Linked DNA regions of Homo sapiens: regions 1, 2, 3 and 4 are each reported to be linked to region 5. The links are microRNA targets in miRTarBase. Many come from high-throughput screens and were not tested one by one. Region 5 holds a microRNA gene; each other region holds the end of a gene's coding sequence.

Region 1 (5,105 bases), not on the chromosome of region 5:
GCACTCATGGGGCTCACACACACATTCAGGACACATTCAGGGCCAAGCTGGATCTCAACAAAGACAGCCAGGATCCACAGTTCATGGGAGACTGGAAACTACTCATGGACAGACAGGAGATACCACTAGACATGGCCATTCTGGTTATGGACAATCCACACAGACAGGTTCCAGATCTAGTAGAGCAAGTCATTTTCAGTCACATAGTAGTGAAAGGCAAAGGCATGGATCAAGTCAGGTTTGGAAACATGGCAGCTATGGACCTGCAGAATATGACTATGGGCACACTGGGTATGGGCCTTCTGGTGGCAGCAGAAAAAGCATCAGTAATTCTCACCTTTCATGGTCAACAGACAGCACTGCAAACAAGCAACTGTCTAGACATTGACAGTTATTTTCTAGTTCTGACCTTATAGTATCCAAAGCAACTAAAAGAACAGGAAGACACAGTTTAAATCATGAACAGTCAATGGTAAGTTATGAACATTCAGTTGATTCTCAGTATCAGTCTCGACCTATTATTATAAGAAGTCAGGAATCTAGTCATGGACATTCTATAGTAACTCATAAACAGTCAAACAACACCTATGTTCAACCTGGATATAACACAGCCAGAAGGGAGGGATGTACACATAGCCAGTCAAATGACCACCTTGGATTTGGCCATGGACAATCCATATCAGTTCATGGCCATTCAAAATCTAGTTCAATCAGAAAACAGGAATCCCATACTGATAACAAAAAGCATTCAGAAGATTGGGAGAAAGACACTCATGAGCAATTAGGATCTAGGCATGGGAAGTTAGAGTTCAATACAATAGGTATACATGGATCTAGCCAGCAACATTTCGGAGATACAACTTTTCATGGGCAGGTAAGATCCAGCACAGGTTTTGCCAGATAGGTATTAAGTCATGGGCCATCAAGAGATGCCTAGGGTCAGTCTGGATTCAGTACCAATGAAAGACAAGTATACAGCCATGGCCAATCAAATGATAGTTATGAGTAGTCAAATGACAGCAAAAGTCAAAGATACATTTTCAGTCACTTTCTTGACAGCCAAGACCCTGCAGGAATTGAAGAGTATAGGTATAGATATTCATCAAGCAGTGCAACCATATGCAGTGGGGGAGACAAAGGCAAGAGTCAGAGTCAAGTCTGTCAGGAGGTATCAGAATATACGGTGAGGATGTGGGCAAAAAACAAAGAGGCTCTGAGGCCAGCGGTTACCATACAAAGGAAAGAACAGGCTCTGGTTCCTTCTGCTTAGATAGCAACACCCCACTCTATGAATATGTCCAAGAACAAAGGAGTTATTACTTTGAATAAGAAGCCAACATAAACTAGCCCAAGATAAGAACTAACCCAGAGAAGAAATGAGACACATACATGAAATTAAGGTATTTAACATGATCTCCTCTTTTGGTAGTAAGGGTATATGTCTGTTCTTTCATTTTAACTATAGTTCTGTACTATATTACTTTTGTTTGGTGCCAGGTGTTTTTGTAAGGCTCCACATTCATTGAACTCCTTGGTTAGAAAATAGTGAATGAGGCCGGGCGCGGTGGCTCACGCCTGTAATCCCAGCACTTTGGGAGGCCAAGATGGGTGGATCACGAAGTCAGGAGTTCGAGACCAGCCTGGCCAACATAGTGAAATCCCGTCTCTACTAAAAATACAAAAATTAGCTGGGTGCAGTAGCGGGCACCTGTAATCCTAGCTACTCAGGAGGCTGAGGCAGGAGAATTGGTTGAACCCGGGAGGCAGAGGTTGCAGTGAGCCGAGATCGCACCACTGCACTCCAGCCTGGGTGACTGAGCAAGACTCCACCTTGAAAAAAAGAAAGAAAGAAAATAGTGAATGGAAGAAAAAGATAAACACCATTTGGGGCTATATTCAGAACTATATAATAAAGAGAGATTTGTGTGGTTGGGAATAAAATTAGGTTTTAAAAAAATTTCCGAATTTCAAAATTTGGATTTTCCAGATTTTGTTTTAATTAATTATTGACAAACCTATCCAAGGAGCTAAATGACGTGGTTTAGGAGCCAAAACGTCTCTAGAAACATTATAACACATCCCATCCTGAACAAAGAATGTTGTCATAGTTTCCCACATGAATATTCAGAATATTTGCATCTTTTTGTGTCACTACTGGAATTCTGTACAATTATATTTAAATTTATTGTCATGGCCTTCTGGATATAGGATCCAGAAAATTGTACTTCATAAAAATTGGCAATAAACATTTCATCAAGTTATAGTTTCTCTTCTCTTTCATCTCCACAAACACATAGTTTCCTGCCATGGGATCAGATGCAGTTTTCTTCCACCTCCACACAGCTAGATGGCAGTGAAGCACTCAGGTACTAATAATAAGGACTCCAAAGAAGACAAAACTCAACCATATCTGATCTTTTCCTCAATCTAATCGCTGTCCAATGCTTCTGTAAAGCATTTACAGAAAGGCTTTATACTGATGAGTTGACCTCAGATGTTCTGGTTAATCATGATCATCACAGCAATTATTATCAAACATAATCCCAAGAAGCTACTTTCTAAGACAACCCAAGCTCTGGAAATAAGAATTATACACCATGGATTTTCTCTGTCAAAGATATTAATGGAAGAATCACTATCAATAGAAGCTAATTGGGTCCAGAGGTTTCCAGTAGAAGAAAAACAGTTAAAAATATATTATTCCTGCCTATAAGGAGAAAATACATGAATTTATTATGAATAGTGAGAGAAGTAATGATGAGTAGAAGAATTATGTACAAAATGCACTATCCTCAGTAGAAAGTTTACTACTATAAAACCCAAAGAAAATGTGCAGACTGTCAGAACTAGTAAGAACTTTAAAGATTACTTCCTTAATTTGGAAGTTAAAATAAAAAAGCCAAGCACACCGCATTTAATTAAAAGAGTGATAATTCTCACCATTAAATTTGGTGCTATCCAAATTTATCCTCTTTTCACTCAAAAATCAAGCTACTTTTCCTCCACCTTCACTTTTGGAATTCAAACTAAACTGAAATTCATCAGTGAGTGTTCAAAATCACAAGTCCCTATTAGAAGCAGAAGTTACATGAAAACAACAACAACAACAAACAGGCTCATTCTTCTGATTAGACTCAGAATATATCTATCTAATCTAGTTTTTAAATTGTAATATTAAGAAGGACTTGTACTTTATGAACTTTAAATCGTACTATGTAATCAACATAACACTAGTCTGTTAGTTTGCTAGTGAAAAAGCTACTGTTATACTATTAATGATACTCAGCAAAATTACTGTGTATATAGGAGTTAACGCTAGTAACCAATTCATACCAATCTATCTATCACCATTTATTCACTGAATATAAATACTAATTATCAAAGAACAATTAGAAATTTAAATTTGATATTTAATCTCTTTCTATTATAGATAAAGTAAGTCTATACCTATAATAAAAAGAGAAATCCATAGATTTTTATCCTACCTCTGCACAGCTAGATGGCAGTAAAGTAAATCTATGGATTTACTTTATTTACAATAGAAGAGATTAACTTGCTAATTGGAAGTGCTGCTATGACCAAGGTATAGGTTTCTGATTCTCAAGCCAAAGCTCTCTCTCGTGTCAGGGCGTCTGCACTCATTCCATACATCTGTAATTCCATATTCTACCGCTAGACGGCGGTGAAACACTCAGATACTAATGATGAGTCCAAAGAAGGTAAAACTCAACATCTGATCTTTCCCTCAATCTAATCACTGTCTAAAGCATTTACAAGAAAGAAAGGCTTTATTCTCTAAGTATACGTTTACAAATGTCTAAAGTTTCACTGGTATCCTGAATAAACGTTAATGTGCCTTTATTGTATGTGTGTGTAAATATGTATATGTGTATATATAAATATATAGGTTATGTACATAAATGACCCCCATAATCCCTTAACCACACCCATTTGAAATTTAAATGTAATATATTCCACATTGCTAAAACTCTCAATAATATGTTTTAATCAAATAGGGGGCAATTGTTCCTTATAAATTACACCAGAAGTATTAAATAACTCAAAAAGAGTTACACATCTCCCTTCTAAGATAAAAGGAAAGATAAAAATGAGACATCAGGTATGGTCTACAAAGAAAAAGTTCAAAACTGGGGTGCCCCCATGTGAAACCTCTGTGAACAGTTGAATTTCTTAGATGCTAGAAAGAGAAGTGTCATAGGTACATACCGTTAGATATTTCCCCTCTACTACCATCTGTGTGCTAGCAACCTGTAGGTAAAGCATTTCTGTGCCAAGAAATACCCAGTGATGTCAAACCATGGCTGAGACTGTCATGGAGAGTACATGGCACTGAAGAGGAACTCTGGGTGGCCAAAATGGGAGGAAAGAAAGATAAAATTCCTCTTCTTACAAACTTTCTAGATAAAGATGACCTTTGGATGAGGGAAATTGAAGGTCAGTTTGTAGCAGACACACTGCATGCACTTGCTGTTCTGTTAGAGTGTAATACATAGTCCCTGTGTTCCAAGAGTCCTTGATAACCAGAGAAGACTTTCTAATACTACATGCTGAGTACAACCTTTGTGGAGCACTCTAACACAATCAAAGGTGGGTATGTAAACTGTGGGGAAATGAGCAAGAAAAAGTAGAAAATCTTTAAAAAGTAAAGATTGAGGCAATTCTGGATTTGGTTGGAAATTAATCAAGCGAGCAGACAGAAGCTTCCTCTCTAATAATGATTTGACACAATTAAAAGGCCACTAACTCAGGCTTTGAAACTGGTTTTAAGCAACATCTTACTGAATCTTTGGAAAACATGGTAAGTGAAAGTGAGTGAAACTCTCCTTAAAAGTGCATAGAATTACCAGTAGAAGTTCACAAGTATATTTTTTGCATTATAAAGCCATCTAACACAAAGAAGTATGAAATTTGCAAGGAAAAACATGTTCATTTTCTAAAGATTGTTTAGATATGTTAAGTTGTCTCATATTATTCTTTTCATTTCCCCACAATGTACAATTAATAAAAATCTTATGTTGTCTTACTTTCTACAAATAAAGTGCAGTAATTAGGAAAAGGATGAAATGGAGGAACAGCCTCTGGTT
Region 2 (5,105 bases), not on the chromosome of region 5:
CCCCTAGTCTTGTGACATTGTTACTCTGGTTCTATAGACCCACTAGTTAGATCACTAAAATCACTTTTAGATATGAGCTGCCACAGAGTAATGTAGTTTAATATAAACAACAATGTAATTGTGATGTCAATAAGTTCTTTACTTGTGGCTTAATAATTAAAAAATAACAATATACTTTGAATTATATTTATCACGAGTAAGACTATAAAAATGCATAAAAGTATGTTTATGTGTTTTTTTTCCTTCTACAGTGAGAAAGTCAACAAAGGAATTGGCATTGAAAATATCCATTATTTAAATGATGGGCTGTGGCATATGAAGACATATAAATGAGCCTCAGAAGGAATGCACTTGGGCTAAATATGGATATTGTGCTGTATCTGTGTTTGTGTCTGTGTGTGACAGCATGAAGATAATGCCTGTGGTTATGCTGAATAAATTCACCAGATGCTAAAATTCTGTTAGCTTCAGAAATTATTTTAAGTTTTCTTAAACTCAAGTTAAAATTGGGTAGCAAACTTGGACATTAAAAGGTATCTGGTAAGTAAGCAAACTCATACAACTAATGTCCTTTCTTAGGCTAATGATATAAGAGTGAAGAGCAGGACTTGGTCAATGGATTGCCATTTTATGGTAGACCTCTAGAGAAACTGTCTAGTTAAATGGGGCTAGAAACTAGACTAGGAATTTTATTCTATTACTCCAGGGGACCCAGCAGTGCTCATTCTCGTGTGTGTGTGTGTGTGTGTGTGTGTATGTGTGTGTGTGTGTGTGTGTGTGTTTTGTTGATTGTTTTTTTAAAAAAAACTTCAATGGAAAATTCTAAACATATTAAGAAGTCTGGAGAATAGTATAATGGACCTCTCCATATCCATCACCCAGTTTCAGTTTATGGTCAGTCTTATTTCATCTATACCTCAATTATTTCTCCCCACCCCCCAATTATTTTGAAGCAAATCCCAGACATCCTATCATTTCATCCATAACTACTTTATTCTTTTTTTTTTTTTTTTGAAACAGGGTCTTGCTCTGTTGCCCAGGCTGGAGTGCAGTGGTACGATCTTGGCTCACTGTAACCTCCACCTCCCGGGTTCAAGCGATTCTTGTGCCTCAGCCTCCTGAGTAGCTGGGATTACAGGCACGTGCCACCATGCCCGGCTAATTTTGTATTTTTGGTAGAGATGGGGTTTCGCTATGTTGGCCAGACTGGTCTTGAACTCTTGGCCTCAAGTGATCCGTCCCCCTCTGCCTCCCAAAGTGCTGGGATTACAGGCATGAGCCACCGTGCCCAGCTAATTTTTATATATTTTATAGTTGGCCAGGCTGGTCTTGAACTCCTGGCCTCAAGTGATCAGCCTCCCAAAGTGCTGGGATTATAGGCATGAGTCACCATGCCTGGCGTCATAACTACTTTAGTGTGTATCTTTAAAAATTAGAAAAACCCCACAATACCATTATCACACCTAAAAAGTTGAACTGTTTCTTAATATGATCAACTGTCTAGACTGTTAATTCTCTTTAACTGTTGGTTTGCTTGAAATAGGTACCACACAAGGTTCATACATTGCATTTGGTTGTTATTTATTGAAGTCTGTTTAATTTATAAGTTACCTTTTCTTTTCCCCCTTAAATTATTTAAGAAATCTAGTTGTTTTGTCTTTAAAGTTTCCACACATATTCTGGATTTTGTTGATTGTATCACTGTGAAGTCATTAACTTGTTTTTATGCCTCCTGTATATCCTGTAAACAAATAAGATTGATCAGATTCAGGTTCAGTTTTTTTAGTGCCTTCTTTTGAGTAAAGTCATACCAAACAGATGCCCAGAACATCTGGATTTGGGTCCCCACTAGACTCCTTAAATAATGTATATCTTCTATAAGTGGAATATGAGGGACATGGACCTGCTTTAGTAAGAACAGTAATCTGTTTGGGGAGTTAAAAGAGCAGTTGTGGATTTATTTATTGATAAAGACCATTTTTCTTCCTAATAACCTTGCTGTTATTCTAGTGTCTTAGCCATCTTCATTTGGTTGTTTACCAATATATGACATGTGATTTTATTTTTCAGATGGATACAGACATATACAAGATTGTGGTGACCTGTGTTACAGTTAGAAGTTGGTGAGAAAGGTGAGGGTGGATAGCAAAAAGAGAGAGATCATTTGGCTGGCTGTTCCAGCTGGGTCTCCCAGGATGTAACATAGGTGGACATAGATCCAGGGTCTGACCCTCAGCTTGAGAAACCATTTCCCACTGATGAAACTTGAGAGACTTGGAGATTCCCCAGTTAGAATATAAATGTATTAATTCATAGTGATAGGTCTGCCTATGGTAAACAATTAGGAAACAGGAAGTTACTTGGTAAACACAGGTATGAGCAAAGGAAGATTGATAAATTGGGGTAATATTTCAGTTGTGCTGAGGTAAGACTTGGAGAATTTTTCCTGCTTCATCATTAATTAGAATGCTTATCTCTGCCAAAATCTCATCTCTTTCCTAGCCCATAGAGGTGCCCTGATATTTTATTTCCTATATCCTTTTCAAGTTCCATGTAGTTTTCCTTATGTTATGACAGTTTTATTCTGCAGCTTACCATATTATTTATTCCTGGTCCACGAAAGTATAAATAGTCTCATCAGGAACTCATTTGTAAGTCATCTCCCAGGGGGGTTTCTTCAACAGATAGTTTAATTTTTTGCTGACTTACTGGCTTCAAATTCAGATGTCTCCCTATTTGGGGGAGGAGGCACCCTATTTGAGGCCTGTAGCTCCTTATGTTCTTAAAAAGAATATACAAGTCATTTATGTCAGAATCAAACTTTGAACCTTTATTTTTGTTGCTAAGAGAATGTTTTTTGACCAAGACTGCCTATGGAGTATTAGCAATGAAAAACAAAGCACACATATACATACATTAGAGAAGTAAAAACTTTTAATAGCTTGGTTTTTGAAATAATTCATCTTTGTGTCTAACCACTGTTACAGTGGGTGTAAGGAACACTTTTTAAATATTCAACATCAACATCTGTGCTTGTTTTTCTACTGTGCTGAGGTACACTGTGTTGCCTTGGTGATATGGACTAAATATGTATGTTCTCTGCTTCCCCTGGGTCTGAGGCCTCTGCTCATCACTGTTAATCAGGGATGTCACTCTACATGTGTGATCCTTGTCATTTTCTAAACATTAGGTCATACATGAAAGGCAATTCAAAGAGATTAAACTAGCAGATGTGTCAGCATCTTTAGATACTGTGCTTAATGGAAACTTAGTTTACCTATATTCGTGAGAATAGGAATACAGGGATAGAGAGCCTGCTTCTCTCAGGCAGTGTGTCTTTAGTTCATTTTTAGTTTCAAAATTAAGTTTGTGTCAAACCAACCTACAATCTAGTAACTTGTGTATTGGACTCACTTTTACTCAGACAAGGTCAGTTCAGCTCAATAGGTATTTATTGAGTATCTACTAGGTTCTAAGTGACGTGGCATGAAGATGAATAATACAGAAGTAGCCCTTGCTCTTAAGGAGCTTCCAATCTAGTGAGTAAAGAAAATTTACATTTTAAATAATCTGGGTAATGGTGACAGCCCAATACTAATATGTAAAGCCAGTAGGAATGTACTAATCCTTTTCCAATTTTAGTCATCAAAAATTGTAAATTACAAATGAACTAAATGTAGTAATATTCCATAGATTGTATCCAATGTGAGGGTAAAAAAAAAATCCCAGATGTCTTGGAGTTGCCGTGATTCAGCATCCCAACTCAGATGATTGTCCTGTTGTCCGGTGACATAATGGCCTGATCAGTTCTCTTCTAGCAGACTGTCTGTTATGGTGGTTTGGTAGTGGTCTGTTGGGAAGCTGCATTTTTCCTTTTCTGTTTTTATGCTCTGGACCCCAAACAAAAACAGCTGGATTTATCCCATGGGTAGTCATGAACATTTCCAATTTGAGGGATTTTATATTCCCCAAACAGAAGGTTATATGGCATATATCAAATAATAATGATATCCAGCCAGGTTCCCTGTCGTACCCAAATCAGTAACTGAAGATACGTATTTCTAAGTATAATACTTCAGAGGAAGAGATAAGAATTACAATTCACTAAATTCGTGGAGGTGTTTCATTATAATAAATATGTCACTTATTAATAATGTAGCAATTATATATTAATGGAAATATGAATGTATGCCCAAGCAAAATGTCATAAATATTTTAACTTTGTTTGTCTAGGTTCCTTAATTTTGAGACTATAATTATCAAGGCTCTTCAAGAAACTCAAAATGATTCTAATTTCTAAGTAGTATGCATTAAAACTGATATATAATGAAAGAAAAACAGTGAAAATGTATGCATCAGTTTCTAAAGAAATCATACTTGTCATTGTAGAGATGCATGTAAATTAAATGTATTATACATTTTTATACTTGTATGTATTTTATACTTTGTATGAATACTTTTATTACACTTTTTAAGGCAGGTAAAAGAATGAGTAGATGTTATCAACTATAACAACAATTTGTTGAATACTGTGTTAAAACCAAGTAAAGGACCACAACTCCACGAGATCAGGAATGAATGAAGAAAATTGAGGGCCAGTTTTTAAATCATTGTTGAGACTATTAGGTTCATCTGTCTGTTTAAGAGTCTGGCCTTAGGGAATATAATTTATGCATGTAAAAAAATACAGGAGATGATTCACTGGAATGTCTCTTAATAATACCATGTTCATTAAGAATAGGTCATTGGGAGGAAAAATAAATAAAAACATCTGAACTCATTAGTATAATTAATACTTGCCTCTTAGAATGAAAATTAAAGAACTCCAAATTTTAGCCTTGAATACTTTGAGAAATAAAAGATGAATTAGTGAAATAATTTCTACTTAAAATCTTAGTTGTTACAGAGAATGACATGCCTCACTATTAATGTCCAATTCTAATTAATGGATTGTTTTAGAAATGTATTTGTGAAATATAGCAAACATAGCTAGTAATACTAACAGGTGAAAACTGATATTTCAAATGACTAAATAGACTTAAGATTAGAGGAAGGTAGGAAAAGGTGTGCAACTAACAGAAGCAGTTAACCAAAAAATGAGCTTC
Region 3 (5,105 bases), not on the chromosome of region 5:
GGGGAGCGCGCTGGAATTGCGCGCGCTGGAGCTGTGCGCGGGCCCCGCCGAGGCCGGGCTGCTGGAGGAGCGCTTCGCCGAGCTGAGCCCGTTCGCGGGTCGTGCCGCCGCCGTGCTGCTGGGCTGCGCGCCCGCCGCCGCCGCCGCCGCCACCACCACCAGCGAGGCGACGCCGCGCGAGGAGCGGGCCCCGGCGTGGGCGGCCGAGCCCCGGCTGCACGCGGCCTCCGGGGCGGCGGCCGCCCGGCTGCTGAAGCCCGAGCTGCAGGTGTGCGTGTTCTGCCGGAACAACAAGGAGGCGATGGCGCTCTACACCACCCATATCCTCAAGGGCCCCGACGGGCGAGTGCTGTGTCCCGTGCTGCGCCGCTACACGTGTCCCCTGTGCGGCGCCAGCGGCGACAACGCGCACACCATCAAGTACTGCCCGCTCTCCAAAGTGCCGCCGCCGCCCGCCCGCCCGCCGCCCCGCAGCGCCAGGGACGGCCCGCCTGGCAAGAAGCTGCGCTGAAGGCCCGGGCTCCCGGCCGCCCAGGGTCGCCGCCGCCCCTCGCACCGCTAGGTCTGCGCACCATCTCGCCCCCGCCGTGGGGAGGCGTGCGGCTCAGCGGTCGGCTCGACATGGGACGTCGTCCTGGTGGTTTTTGAAAAGCAGCCGACCGTGTGGAGTACTTCCGTGCTGAACGATTGGGACTAGACGCTGAAATCCCCATTTGTCTTCAGTTTCTAGTTTGCACATCCAGAACGGCGAAGGCTGGGTGTGTATTCCACTAACTGAAATATGGCAACTTAGAGGCGCTGTTTATTTACTGTATACGTCGACCTATTTTAGATGCGCATCAGTATGAAATTGTCTCAATCTTGGATGTTTCATTTTATGAATGGAGGCACTTTACTAGGTCTAGAATATTTTTTTAAAAGCCTCTGAACTGAGCTTAAAACTGGCGATTTTATGAAATGTCGGCAAAATGACTATTTTATTGTTTGAAGCGAGTTAATATTCTCAGTTGTCTTTAAAAATCAGTTACTCTAATTCCAGGTGAAGCAAGCCGCTGGTAGCATCACCCTTATGAGAAGTGAAGGTTTTGTAAACTTTCCAGTATTAATTTGGGCGGGTATTCCCCGCTTGTGGCTTGTTTCTGTCCTAGCTGGAGGTGTAAAATGCACAATGTGTAGCAGGTAGAATACAGCTCCTTATCGTTCTATGTACCAGGTATTTTATTACTGAACTAGCAACTAGCCTTTTCCACCTTTAAAAGTTGTGCCAAGTCATAATCATATTGTGTATAACTTGGAAATGGTGCTGTTTAAAAAAATTGTGTATTTATACAGTAACAGTATGAATTCATTAATCTCACCTGTAACTTTCCTACTTGGCATTTTCTCTACACACTCACCCTCTTCCAGTTCTTTAAAAACGTTTATGATATTAAGATCAAAGGGAGGAAGGGAAGACAGCAGTATTAATTCACCCTAGATTACTCAATTTCAGGGTTCCTAGTGGAGGAAAGCCCATTCCAGCTGTTGCCTGTCAAACAAATAGAAGATGGATCTCTAGCTCTGAGCTATTCGTGTATTAACTCGTATTCAAGAAGGTTCCACCGTGGGCTGCGTCTGACTTTAATACAGGCAGTGCTCAAACTAGAATAAGCACTAATTAAAGGAATTGTTGGGGGTCCTTCATGTGTTCCCACTCCTACTGGAAGACCCATGTCGGTTTCCGGAACCCCACCAGTTTACCCATAAGCAAGACTAAACCTGATCCTTGGGCAAAAGTTCCTAACCCCTACTTTACCCTCCCACCCTCACTTTTAAATCCACCATACTGAATGCCACACTATGGAATGCAGCTACCTGCCAAGCAAGGCAATAGAAGGCAAAAAATGGAAGTGAATTAAGATGAACTCATCTGAAATACACAAATGCATTACTATCTGAAGATACCAGCAAGAGTTTAGTCTACGTGTATAAGGCTCCCAGTAGGATTTAGCTAGGCTACTAGAAGTTAGACTGCTTTCGCATTAAACAGCTAACTTCATCCACAGCAAATTGACTCAATCAGGAACCTTCATTTGAAGGTGTGTTAGAGGATGGGGTAAATACCCGATAGCTGTCTTTTTGGTGAAAGAAAAGGTGCATTTCAAGAACTTGGGGGGCAGGAGGAAAGCACAATGTTTCTTAGCCAGGAAAGACAAATAATCCAACGCTGCTAGTCTTAACCCCAGACCAGAGAGAACTGCAGATCTGACTGGGCCTAAATTAAGTAGCTTAATGAAACCATGTAATTACTTGTTCTCCTTTCTTTTGCTATAGAAAATCTACCAGTTTAAATGAGCTTCACCTTCTGGGTGAAGTTTCTAAGGTCAACATGAATCCTCTTACCTCTCTCACTGCTCGTGTTCTGCCTTTTCAAAAGGACCACTATGAACAGATCAGCGCATTCTCTAGGCCAAAAGGGCTAGCCAGGTGGCAAGATCAATTTAGCTACTTTGTATTTTCAGAGTCAAATTACAGACGGTTTCCAAAGGTCTTGAGCATGGGGCTTTGGCATAGCCTCAATATATGGGAGTCACTGTGATGAGATGTGCCTAATGTTAATTTGATATTCTGACATTGCTATTTTACCAGAACTAAGAACATATTGAGCTGGAGCTTCTTGAGGGCAGGAGAGTATTGGAAAAGGAATCCAGAAGACCCTCTCCACTACTCAGGCAGCCACTATTCATCTATTTTTAAAGTACCCCATTTTCAGGCCGGGTGTGGTGGCTCATGCCTGTAATCCCAGCACTTTGGGAGGCGAGGCGGGGGTGGATCACAAGGTCAGGAGACCAGCCTGGCCAACATGGCGAAGCCCCGTCTCTACTAAAAATACAAAAATTAGCCGGGTGGTGTGGTGGGCGCCTGTAATCCCAGCTCCTCAGGAGGCTGAGGCAGGAGAATTGCTTGAAACCAGGAGGCGGAGGTTGCAGTGAGCCCAGATCACGCCACTGCACTCCAGCCTGAGCAACAGAGCGACTCTGTCTCCAAAAAAGAAAAAAAGTACCCCATGTTCAGCCCCTGTGCCAAATTTGCCTAGGTTTTCCAGCTGACAATGAATACTGGGAGTTAAAACGCAGAGTATTACTATAGTTAATTTTCTAGGGTTCTCTTATGAAAAGTATATGTAAACACATTCATTTAAAAATCCTTGGAACTCAATGTGGAACTTTAAACATTTTGCAAAATTACATTTAGAGAAACCCAATTTTTCAAAGTTTAAGAAATATACAAAGTATGACAAAATTATCTTCATAAGAACATGCTGCATACTTGCCTAGTAGCAAAACAATACAGGGAAGAGTCAAAAGGGCTTCTCCAACTGTAGAGGTACAGATTGTCTTAACCTGTTCTTTTCTGTACAGACTTAAAATTTCTAGTGGCTTTTATTTTTCTTTGTATTTTAATTTTCCTACAAAGTCCTTTTTGGAAGTTGCAGAATTATTAGCTTTGATGAGAACAACTTTTGTCATAGATTTGATTTATTAAACCAAAATTATACATATTAAAATTATATCACAAATATATATGCTTCCAGACAAAGAAAAGTTTGTTAGTCCTGATTTTCTAATCGTAGCCACTCAAGGAACAGTCCTTTCATAGTACCCCAAGTATTTCAATTAGACTTATAAAAGTATAAGTCAATCTATGGTCAGTGTCTTTGGTTAAAAAAAAAAAAAAACACAGGCAGTTCTTTACATAAAAACGTCCCACACGTTATAGATGCCAGCCACCTCCTGGTAGTCACTATGGACAACTAATGAGATGCAAAGTCTTTTGGACCGATGATGTCTCTACTACTGGATCTATCTGTATTAACAGCAATGTTACTCTCAATGAAACTGCAGAAGCCACCATGAACATGGAAGACCACCTAGCAGATCGGTGAGTAGGCTGCTTGTTCAGCTTTCCTTTAACACCTGTTGGTAAATACTAATGGGAGTAGACAGAGTTGTATGGCCTGGACAGTGGAAACCAAGAGCAGGATCGCAAAGTAACAGCATCAGACTCTTCTGCCCTCCTCTTGCACTTGGGTTCTGACTCCCAGAACAAAGAACTTGGGAGAACAGTACGGGAGACTGAGCAGAAAGGATGGGTTTGCTGACTCGCCTTGAAATCTAACTCTAACGTAGGCAGCAGTAACTCGTCTGAACAAATCTGATTAAATAAATTCTTGGGGCTTACCTGTGATGTCACACATACAGATCTACTCTCCAGGAAGCAAACTCTTAGCAAGTTACTGCCCCACTTGTAATCACTGATCTGAAATTCTCTTGTTATGAAAGAAAAGTCCTTCTCCCCACGAAAGACCTTTAAAGACTTCTACGTATTTGAAATACCAGATACTAAGGTGTTTAAAATGATTTCTATCATTGGTAACATCAAACAAAAATAGCTGCATCTGGTTAAGTTAAAAAGCATCAATACTCCCTCTTCTGGCCCTACAGCTGTACCAATAGGAATTCTCACCACTACTCAATAACAGAAATAAGTGCCTACAGCCATGATGAATTTGTAACATTTTCTCAAATTAACTACGATTTTTCTAATTTCAGGTGAAAACCCAAGGTGGTACTTCAAACACGCACATGCACACACAAACTCAGAGGACAGCGTTACAAGGAAACTAAGGAATTCCTGCATTAACAAAGGAAGACATGTTAGGGGGACATCCTAGCCACATATGCTTTCTTTGTTATATTTAGGTTCATTTTCATTGATACTAAACACAGACATTTAATGGCACTGATAAAAATTCAAGTAAAAAAAACTCAACTGAATATGCAAACTTACCATTATAAACAAAATACTATAACCACAAATCAACACTAAAACAAATTCTGTAAGTATTTTATTTATCACTGAAGAAAAAACACAGCAGCAAGTTCTGTGTTGGCTTCAATGAGACCAAATAGTTCATCTTTAACATAGCTACTGCGCTCCAAAATTGAAGTCAACACAGTCATTACTACAAATTACTTGTTGAAAGAATCTATCTTCAAAAGAAAGAAAATTAGGAAAGAGAATTTAAACGATTCCTCCAAACCATACATTTATAAATATTGTCA
Region 4 (5,092 bases), not on the chromosome of region 5:
AATGCCCCCAAATGACATCTCTTCTTTCTATTTTTTACCTCTACTTCCTCAATAATGGCTACATTGTAAGATAGTGCTCACTCGGTGGTCTCTGGTGATTGCTGGCACCTCCTAGGACTTCAGCTTTGCAGTTCAAGTAGAGAAAGAAAAAGAGAATCTGCTTTTTGGTATCTCCAACAAAAGTTCTGGAATAAGAGTTGCACTGGTACTAATTGTTCTGATTTGAACTGTGCATCTACTTTAAAATTAATCACTTGCTGGTGGAGGAGCAAGGGAGAGTGTGTGTCAATATGCTGATTGGTGTTAGTGATTCTCACAACTACAGGGCTGGTTGGGAAGATTATTGGTTGGCAGGGGGAACTAGGAATTGGATGCTGGAGGAGGGGCTACCAAATGTCTGCAGGAGCCACTAAACACTCTGGAGTCTAAGAATATGAAGAACAGGAGGATATTTCCTTATAGTGCCCAAATAAAGCCAGCCAGAGGGTAACACCCCTATATTCACCTTTGAACTTCTATCTTTCTCAACAGATCTGGCAGTTCAGCAGCCTCTTCTCCAAAATCAAGAGCTGGGAGTTTAATGAAGTCACCTCCATGTCTGAGCACCTGAAGTCCTGTCCTTTCAACATTGTAGAGCACAAAACTGACCCGATTCTTTTGACTAGCATGTGTCAGCCCCGTGAGCAGGCCCGAGAGAGCTTAGTCTCCACCTTTAGAATCAGACCACGAGGAAGATACGTCTCCTAAAAATTCAGATGCCACTCGATGCACCCTTCTTGGATTTCTTCTCGGAGTTCCTGAAGTAGGACAGAGTGTGTGGTTTTGAGGACTCCCTTCTGTAAACTGCCTATTTGCTTATCGGGGTGTATTGGAACACGCAATGTCCTTCGAAACCTCAACACGAGGCCTAAGAATTTCCTAAGCCATGTCTTGTACCATAGTGCCACATTGATGACTTGTTTCCTTTTTTCTTTTCTTTTCTTTTCTTTTTTCTTTCTTTCTAAAATAGATTGGTCTGAGAAGAAAATAAGTAATTTGAGGCCATTTGGAAGATGGGCCCAATTTCTTAAGTGATGAGAGAGCACGAAATTCCATAACCAGTACAGGCCTGTGCTTTTACATGGGCTTTTTAGTTCACAAAGCACTTTCAAATTTATGGGACAGGAAATGCAGGATGGGACTCCCCAGGGAACGCAGGGTGAAGGGAACAAAGCTGGAGGCTCTGGAGCTGGGTCTGTTTTGACGGTCAAGTCCAGGGCTCATTTTGGTTATTCTACTGCCTCTAGGCCAGGGTAGTCCTAACACAGCCTGACATAGGAGAGCCCCTGGCTGAGCATGGCAGCCTTGAAGACACCACAGGCCAAAACATGAGGGGCAGAAATGGGATCACAGAGTCTGTTGCTAGAATCTTGGCAACATACAGCAGGAAAGCCTTGATAAATCGGGAGTCCAAAGGAGACACCATATTTATGGAGAACATTAGGACAAAAAGTCACCAACTTACTTTGTAACATTTTAATAATGACTTAAGGGTCAAGATTTTTTTCTTCTGAAAATTATGTTCTGAGTTAGGCAGAACATAGCCATGGCCCTGGGCCACCCTGTGCTATCTGAAATGACCTCAATACACTAATGCCAACCTCAGCGTCATGCCAGAATGCACAGGGCAGCCCAGGGAGATCACACCTTTGGCAAAGTCCAGACAAGGCCCACTGCAGTTCCTATGGCGCCAGTCACCAGCTCCTAGACAGCACTTGGGTACCCCATTGGGGTCTTGGAGAGGAAGACATGTGAACATAACGGCTCCCTGAAATTGCTCCTACCCATCCATATTTCTGGTCATGCTTTCAGTCTGACAAAAATGGATGATACTGCTGTTTTTGGTAACAAACAGTGAATATTCATAAGAACAAAAGTAAAAGAAAAAAAGACACAGTAGAAACTGGCATCCCCTAAAGCAGGGCTTCTTAGCCTTGGAACTATTGACATTTTTAAATGGATAATTCTTTTTTTTTTTTTCTAGGTGGGGAGGGGATGGAGTTCACTCTTGTTGCCCAGGCTGGAGCGCAATGACATGATCTCGGCTCACCGCAACCTCCGCCTCCTGGGTTCAAGCGATTCTCCTGCCTCAGCCTCCCGAGTAGCTGGGATTACTCGCCTGGCTAATTTTGTATTTTTAGTAGAGACGGGCTTTCTCCATGTTGTTCAGGCTGGTCTCAAACTCCCGACCTCAGGTGACTCGCCCGCCTTGGCCTTCCAAAGTGCTGGGTTTACAGGTGTGAGCCACTGCGCCCTGCCTGAACTGGATAATTCTTTGTTGCAAGGGACTGTTCTGTGTACTACAGGATACTTGGCAGCATCCTTGGCCTATCCATTAAATGTCAGTAGCACCCCCACAGTGGCAACAATCAAAAATGTCACCAGACATTGCTAAATATTGGGGAGCAAAATGGCTCCCCGTTGAAAATCCCTAAAGGATGTCATACTAGTGACAATAAGTTAGGATATGCTTATTTTTTAGTACAGCAAAATCTTATCGCACATAGCTATCCACAATAGTTATGATTTAATGCAGCTCTTTATTTATGAAATAGGTTTTAGACATGTGGTGATTTTAAGTTGGGAACCAGAAGGAAATGATTCGTTTGGTATGGCTTCATGTCCTTCAGCCACCCCCAAGAATGTATCCTTTCAGCTCTCTTTGGTTATACCTGAAGCCAGGAGCGTTGAGTTATTAGCCTTGTGTTTATATTCCTCTCACTGTAATTGGTGTCATTTTCCCAGCAGTCCTAGCAGTCCTCAAGCAAGTGGGAAATCGGAAAAGAAAAGGACAGGCATTGTAGGGAAGCAGAGGATAAAGAATTTAGCCAACAAAAGAAACAATCTAGTCAATCTGGGTGCTTTTATTTCCTGGGTTCTCTCTAAACATGGCTCAGAGCTGGTGTAGATGAAGTAGGTGAAACCTCTGAAAAGAGTCTAGAAGGCAGTAGAGCAAGTCCCAGACCAGAAACATGCTCATCTTTTCATCGTAATGTGCCACTCGGTACTATTTGGTAATGTCACTCTATTTTTCCTAATCCCATCCTTTGGTTTGTATTTCATATTTGTATATAAGGCACCATTTTCTAAAAATATGACTAGGGTGTGACCTAAGGTTTTATTCTGTGAAGATGAGTAACTGGAAAGAAGCTAACACTGCAGTGGGAAGGAAGGAAGAGAGTTGTCCAGGTGGTAGTTCGACGTGTTTTGAATCTAGTCCTTCCTACATGGAGGATAAAAGCTCCTAAAGTCCACTCTGGGTTTGTGATTTTAATAGAAATAGAAAGGGAAACTATAGACCAATGGAGATGAAAATCAGGGGCTATCGACAGATGGAGGAGAAATAAGGTGCTACATAGAGAAAGGAAGAGGGCAGAAGGCTTTCCCTTCCCAAACTGGGTGAGCTGGGGAAGCCTTGGTTCAGGAGAGTGGCACTGCCCACAACTGCTTTGTGGGTTGTGCACTTCCAGCCGCACTCTCCCCCTCCAGTTGCTGCCTTCAGAGCCGTACTGAAGCACGAGCTTCAATAAGACAAGCACACTTCATAGTGAGAGGGCAGCGGTACCAAAGCCTTTCAGAGAGACTATGGATTAGACAGAAATGATTTGTGAGAGGAAGCTGGAGTGAACAGCATGAACAGCGAGTGTTACCTGACAGAGGCAAGACAGCTAGAAGTGGCTTCAGATTTAGAAACAGCTGAGGGGAGCAAAGACGGACTGTGTACACAGGGAGGGAGGATGTCTATGGGCAGAGCCCTTGGTGAGTATCATCACCAAGAAAGGCAGTCCAGAGTAGAGATCAGCCGAATATGGAGGCTGAGGTCTGTAGAACTGGGCCAGAGAGGACCTTACTGCCTTAGTAGCATAAGGGTCTGGAAAAGAAGTTTCTATCTCACAACAAAGGAAAAAGTGAAAAGCAAGGTGGAACTTGAAGATACGTCACGAAAATCACTATAAAAGTCTGATTTATGTGTGATGTCAAATCAAACTGAAATGAAGAATGAGATTGAGTATATCTGTGGTGACTGACCTCTGTATACTAGAAACCTCAACATCTCTAGAAGAGGAAATAAAAGCTGCTTTGCACTCTGAAAGGCTAATTGGGTGAATCTTATAAGTTAGGTCTAGAGACAGATGTGTGATTCACAGGCATAGAAGTTGTCGCTGAAACCAAGTGTGTATCATGAAGAAAGACCAGAGCACAAGCCTGAGACCAAACTTGTCCAACCTGCCTTATTGTGTTGTTGTTCTGTTTTGTTTTGTTTTAGGCTTTTAGCAGCCTGAAGCCATGGTTTTTAGTTTCTGTCTCTAGTGATAAGCAGAACAGAGGAATGACAAAGGGGCTTTACTGGCCCAACCAGAAACAGAAACTATGAACCCATGGCTGAATTCTCTCCCTTGGACACCCTGCTGGGCAGCTCACCAACTCTATGAAGCCCTGGAGCAACTAACTGTGGGTCTTAGCAACCATTCTAGCTCCTCCTTGATCCCAGTGCCTTCTCCATCTTTTCTTTCTTTCTTCTTTTTTTTTTTTTTTTTTGAGACAGCTTCTCACTCTGTCGCCCAGGCTGGAGTGCAGTGGTGTGATCACAGCTCACTGAAGCCTTTACTTTGACTTCCCAGGCTCAGGTGATTCTCTCACCTCAGACTACTGAGTAGCTGGTGCTATAGGCCCACAATACCATGCCCAGCCATTGCTCAGGCTGATCTGTTTTGGACTGGGTTTAAAATGCAGCCTAAGGAGGCCAGGTGCAGTGGCTTATGCCTGTCATCCCAGCACTTTGGGAGGCTAAGCGGGGGGCGATCATCTGAGGTCAGGAGTTCAAGATCAGCCTGGCCAACATGGGGAAACCCCATCTCTACTAAAAATACAAAAATTAGCCGGGCATGGTGGTGCACGCCTGTAGTTGCAGGTACTCGGGAGGCTGAGGCAGGAGAATCTCTTGAACCCAGGAAGTGGAGGCTGCAGTGAGCTGAGATCACACTGCGGCACCCCAGCCTGGGTGACAGAGCAAAACTCCTTCTCAAAAAAAAAAAAAGTTCAGCCTAAGGAA
Region 5 (5,105 bases):
GTCAGTTTGAGAGGGCTGAGGCTGGAGCTGGCAATCGGGATAGCAGGCACACTTCCTCACAGTCTGAACTGGAAGGAGCGTGGAGTGTTGGGGAGAAGATGCAGTGTCAGTGCCCAGGGTGCAGCGAGGCACGGGCTGGCACCCTGACCCAGCCCCCTTCCCAGAGGGGAAGAATTCGCTATGGCCCAGCCCCTGCCCTTGGGGTCTGAGGGGATCCACTTTTGTTAGGAGCCTGCTACACACTTTGCTTTCTTTCGATCCTTACATTGCCCTTCCAGGTGGGCTTATTATTCCTATTACAGATAAGAGAGCTGAGGCTGGGAAGCCGAGTAATTTACACAGGGTCAGGTCATACAGCAAGTTAGCAGGTAGTGGTGCCAGCAGCTGGCTGTCTTTTGTGGGGATGTGTTTTCACCACAGCGGTGGCAACCTGTGTCCTGACAGGCCAGGTTCCTGCATGGACAGTGGGGCCCCCAAAGAGCAGGTGCAGTGCCAGGCTGGACAGATTCCAGCTGTGCCGGGGCCTTGGGCAAAGTGGCCTGGCCTCAGGAGACACGTTTCCTGTTGCTGGGTGACATTCCACAGGTGGGAGGCACATGCAGGACCTCATTCCCTAGGGGCCTTCCTGGTCTGGGCCCTGATGCCCTGACGCTGGGGTTGACCCTCTACTGCCCTGGAGGCTCACCTGGGCCTCGGGACAGAAGGGATTGTCCCATTAAGGAGAATCCTCTACGAGTCTCTGATTCTGGAAGCTCTTGTTTTTTATCCTCCCATACAAAAAACAAATTGGCCACCAGTCTCTTCCCTTCTTTTTGGCCACTGTCTCACCATCTCCTTCACCCAACCTTGGTTTCTTTCAGCCTGTGCTTCCCAGCAGAGCCTGTGGGCTTGTTGATTTGAACCCAGAAACCACCTAGGACATTCCAGAGGTCTTCACACTTGTCTTTGTTGCCCATTGTAGGCCGTTTTCATAGAAGGGTATTGGGAGGACCTGCCTTCCCACTCAGGCCAATGTGAAGCTGTTGCTCTTTTGCTAAGGGCAGGGTGGGATATGGCCGAGAATTGGTGGGCGGGCCTGAGATCCATTCAGCAGCACCCCAGGGCGTGCTGTTTCTCACAGGTTGCAGCCTCTTCCAGCCCCTTTGCTTTCTGTGACAGAGCTGAAAGTCTCATTTCCTCTTTGGCTTTCCCTTTGAAATGGGAGAGAGGGTGGTGGGAGCTTAGCTCCTTCCAGGCCCATTTTACAGGCAGAGTAACCAAGGCCGCGACTGCTGGAGAGAAGCGGAACCGGAGTTCCCGTGCCCATTCCTGTTGGAATCTCCTGTCTGTGTGCCGTTCTTTAAGATGGGCTGGAGAGAGTCGGGGCAGCTCTTCTCCCGGGTTTTCAGGCCTGGGTTGCTCTTCTGGGCACTTCCTGGTGTTTTCTTCTCTTTGCCTGAATCAGGCCTGGCCTCAGGCCTGGTTACAAGAAGGTTGGAGGCTGGCTGTCTTGTGTTCATGTGTCACGCCAGGCCTGAGACCATCATTGTCTCTCTGAGATGGTCCACGCCCCTCCTGTGAACACAGGGGCTACAGACTATAGTATAGTTCTTGCCACGTTCCCGAGTTTTGGGGGCTGCTCTCCACATTGGGATTCCACCAGGATGCTGGTCTGCAGTTTCCTGCAGGCAGAAGGCGCTGGGTTCTGAGTTGGCTTTAGGTGGAACCCAGGTCATTCCTGGGTATGCCTTGGGAGGGCGGCGAGGCTGGCCGCAGCTGGGCCCGGCATCGGAGAAAATTGTGTCTCTCTGGAGACCCTGCAGCCTTCCCACCCACCAGGGAGCTTTCCATGGGCTGTGGGGAAGGCGTCAGTGTCGGGTGAGGGAACACCAGCTTCACCTCGGCTCATCTGGGCGTGGCAGACGACTGCTTCCTCACCTGGAGAGTGTTCAAGGACAGCAAGAAAAATGAGGGACTTTCAGGGGCAGCTGTGTTTTCTGACTCAGTCATAATGCCCCTAAAAATCCTTATTGTTCTTGCAGTGTGCATCGGGCAGCGGCCAGCAACCTGCCTCTCACCCACCTGGCCCTTCTGGGAGGACCGGGACTTCCTGGGGTCAGATTGGAATGTACGTCCAAAATAAGAGTGAATGGGGATTTGCTGATTATTAAAACAATTTTGTTTGCGTGCATTTTTAGCATCTTCTCTTCTGGTGGAGGATTGGAGTGGCTGAGGGTCGGGAGGGCTGGACATCAAGATATTCCTGTGCAGGTTGGAGCCCAGGAGGGTGCAGGAACTCCCTGGTTTGTGTGCAGTGAAGGCCTGGAAGAGCCTAGCTGCACGTGCAGTGCCCAAGGAAGGTCATCTTCCGGGTCAGTGATGTTAGAGGCAACAGAGTTGGGCTGGACAAGATGCCCCCCAACCTTTCCTGAGAAGTTGAGGCAGGAGTAGAGGAGGCATCTATCTGCGCAGGAACTTGCATTGTATTTTAAAATAGAAGGCAGCCTGGCCAACATGGCAGAACCCCATCTCTGCTAAAAATACAAAAGTTAGCCGGGTGTGGTGGTGTGTGCCTGTAGTCCCAGCTACTCGGGAGGCTGAGGCATGAGAATTGCTTGAGCCCAGGAGTTGCAGGTTGCAGTGAGCCAAGATTGCACCACTGCACTCCAGCCTGGGCAACACAGTGAGACCTTGTCTCAAAAAATAAATAAAATAAAATAGAAGGAGCCTCAGAATCCACTGTCTGTCTGAGACCCAGTGAACTAGCCATTTTGAAAATAGAACAGTGAATTGAGGGTCTTTCCCCCTCTACTGTGACCCTGGAGCTTGCTTTTCCTTGACTGAAAGTCCTCCATCCTTATTTCACTTCATGGATCTCCTCCATTCTCAGCAGGTCTCCCTACCCCTGCCCTATCCAGCCCCACCCTGCAGATACAGTCATGCACTGCCTAACGATGTTTTGGTCAACGAGGGACCGCATGTAGGACAGTGGTCTCATAAGATTATAACACTGTTTTTACTGTGCCTTTTCTGGTTAGGTACACAAACGCTTGCCATTGTGTTCTAATTGTCTACAGCATTCAGGATAGGAACGTGCTGTACAGATGTGTAGCCTAGGAGCAATGGGCTCCCCCACCTAGCCTAGGTGTGCAGCAGGCTATTCACCATCTAGGTTTATGTAAGCACACTCTGTGAGGTTGGCACAATAACAAAATCACCTAACAATGCCTTTCTCAGGATGGATCCCCGTTGTTAAGTGACACATGACTCTATTTTGACCAGCCAAGGCTTTTGGAGGTCCTGGGGGATTGTCGAGAAGCAGAAATACCTTTTTTTAAATTATTATTATTATTTTTATTTGTTTTGAGATGGAGTCTTGCACTGTCGTCTGGGCTGGAGTGCAGTGGCGCGATCTCAGCTCACTGCAACCTCCACATCCCAGGTCAAACGATTCTCCTGCCTCAACCTCCCAAGTAGCTGGGATTACAGGCGTCTGCCACTATGCCCAGCTAATTTTTTGTATTTTTAGTAGAGACGGGGTTTCACTGTGTTGGCCAGGCTGGTCTCGAACACCTGACCTCATGATCCACCTGCCTCGGCCTCCCAAAGTGCTGGGATTACAGGCATGAGCCACTGCGCTCGGCTGAATCCGATTTTTCTGAGACCTATTTTTTTATTTTTTATTTTTTTGAGACACAGTCTCACTCTGTTACCCAGCCTGGAGTGCAGTAGCTTCATCACAGCTCACTATAGCCTTGACCTCCAGGACTCAAGGGATCCTCCCACCTCAGCCTCCCAAGTAGCTGGGATTTACAGGCACCCACCACCATGCCCGGCTAATTTTTGTATTTTCAGTAGAGATGAGGTTTCACCATGTTGGCCAGGCTGGGTCTCAAACTCCTGACCTCAGGTGATCCACCTGCCTCGGCCTCCCAAAGTGCTGGATTACAGGCATGAGCCACTGCGCCTGGCCAGAAATACTTTGTTAAATCAATTTGTGATATGCCTGCCTTCCCCAACAATGCCAGTCCACCAAACCCGAAGCAACAGAATCCTGCTCTCCAGGGGAGACTGGGCTGGTGGCTTGCAGTGAAGGACAGGTGGGGAGATGGACAAAGTGACAAGCAGGACTCTGCATGCCCCAGTGGGTCCACTCTATGTCTTACTGCCCTCATGGGTCAGCAGGGGAAGTTTACCCTTGAGGTATTTCCAGGGTCTCTAGGTGCAGCTCAAAAGCTCTCGTCACTGGAGGAGATGACCACGTGTGCTCAGCATTTGCAGAAGTCCAACTGCCACGATCTTCCCTGCAGCCCAGCCCTGGCTCCAGTGGGCACTGGCCGGTGCTACTGTGACTACCTCCACATGAGCTCTCCCAGAGACAGTTTTGAAGGAGCTGGGTTTGCTCAGGAGCCTTGGCTTTTTTCTGCACAGGGCAAGGACAGCTCCAAGGTAAAGTTTAAACATGATGGCATTTATCCTTTCTTGGTAAGGGATAGGTGGGGCTCCCATGAAATGCTATTCTCGCAACCTCCAACGGACAGGGGTGTTGCAAAGGTTCCTTCATCCCCGATCAGCTTCCCTGCCATTTGCTCCCCTCAACCATCCCCTCCCATGGGGCCCCTTTCTCCTGCCCTTCATTCCCCTGAACCTCCTTGTTCTTACATGTGTTCCTCATTCTTTTTTTTTTCCTTCTTGACATAGAATCTTAACTCTGCCACCCAGGCTGGAGTGCAGTGGCCTGAACCAGGCTCACTGCAACCTCTACCTCCTGGGCTCAAGCGATCCTCCCACCTCAGCCTCCCGAGTAGCTGGGACTACAGGCGCACACCACCATGCCTGGCTAATTTTTGCATTTATTGTAGGGACAGGGTTTTGCCATGTTGCCCAAGCTGGTCTCAAACTCCTGGGCCCAAGCAATCCTCCTGCCTTAGCCTCCCAAAATGTTGGGATTATAGGTGTGAGCCACTGCACCTGGCCAGTTCTTCATTCTTTACCACAAAACATTTGCAAAAGATAATACATCAACTTTTTTGGTTTTTTCTTTTTTTTTGAGATGGAGTCTCACTCTGTCACCCAGGTTGGAGTACAGTGGCACAGTGGCATGATCTCGGCTCACTGCAACCTCC

Evidence for each region. The annotated mature microRNA hsa-miR-4725-5p reads AGACCCUGCAGCCUUCCCACC and lies in region 5 at 1,792-1,812, shown strand. An mRNA with a match to its seed (bases 2 to 7 or 8) in the 3' UTR can be bound and repressed. Matches are read on the target gene's strand: a 7mer-m8 pairs with bases 2 to 8, a 7mer-A1 pairs with bases 2 to 7 and ends in A, and an 8mer does both.
Region 1: the mRNA of FLG2 is a reported target of hsa-miR-4725-5p. Seed matches in the 3' UTR shown: 7mer-A1 at 936-942.
Region 2: miRTarBase lists MCTS1 as a target of hsa-miR-4725-5p. Seed matches in the 3' UTR shown: 7mer-m8 at 1,018-1,024 and 7mer-m8 at 2,220-2,226.
Region 3: the mRNA of NANOS1 is a reported target of hsa-miR-4725-5p. Seed matches in the 3' UTR shown: 7mer-m8 at 533-539.
Region 4: miRTarBase lists FBXO40 as a target of hsa-miR-4725-5p. Seed matches in the 3' UTR shown: 7mer-A1 at 1,530-1,536.

Annotation. Positions count from the first base shown.
Region 1 is chr1:152,345,893-152,350,997 of GRCh38, reverse strand. It overlaps FLG2 (filaggrin 2), which reads left to right. Exons shown (of 3, transcript NM_001014342.3): 3 at 1-2,263. The coding sequence ends at 388. All of the region lies in intron 7 of CCDST (cervical cancer associated DHX9 suppressive transcript), which reads right to left. Among named protein-coding and RNA genes, the nearest start is that of FLG2, 12 kb to the left of the region's middle.
Region 2 is chrX:120,611,932-120,617,036 of GRCh38, forward strand. It overlaps MCTS1 (MCTS1 re-initiation and release factor), which reads left to right. Exons shown (of 6, transcript NM_014060.3): 6 at 252-5,105. The coding sequence ends at 333. Among named protein-coding and RNA genes, the nearest start is that of MCTS1, 10 kb to the left of the region's middle.
Region 3 is chr10:119,030,170-119,035,274 of GRCh38, forward strand. It overlaps NANOS1 (nanos C2HC-type zinc finger 1), which reads left to right. Exons shown (of 1, transcript NM_199461.4): 1 at 1-3,561. The coding sequence ends at 511. EIF3A (eukaryotic translation initiation factor 3 subunit A) reads right to left here. Exons shown (of 22, transcript NM_003750.4): 22 at 3,501-5,105. Among named protein-coding and RNA genes, the nearest start is that of NANOS1, 3.0 kb to the left of the region's middle. RefSeq lists a silencer at 317-616.
Region 4 is chr3:121,626,164-121,631,255 of GRCh38, forward strand. It overlaps FBXO40 (F-box protein 40), which reads left to right. Exons shown (of 4, transcript NM_016298.4): 4 at 532-4,132. The coding sequence ends at 747. Among named protein-coding and RNA genes, the nearest start is that of HCLS1, 32 kb to the right of the region's middle. RefSeq lists enhancers at 4,672-4,821, 4,862-4,911.
Region 5 is chr17:31,573,490-31,578,594 of GRCh38, forward strand. It overlaps MIR4725 (microRNA 4725), which reads left to right and starts at 1,780; the gene lies at 1,780-1,869. It overlaps MIR365BHG (MIR365B and MIR4725 host gene), which reads left to right. Exons shown (of 3, transcript NR_186556.1): 3 at 2,022-2,170. MIR365B (microRNA 365b) reads left to right here and starts at 1,922; the gene lies at 1,922-2,032. RefSeq lists an enhancer at 1-496.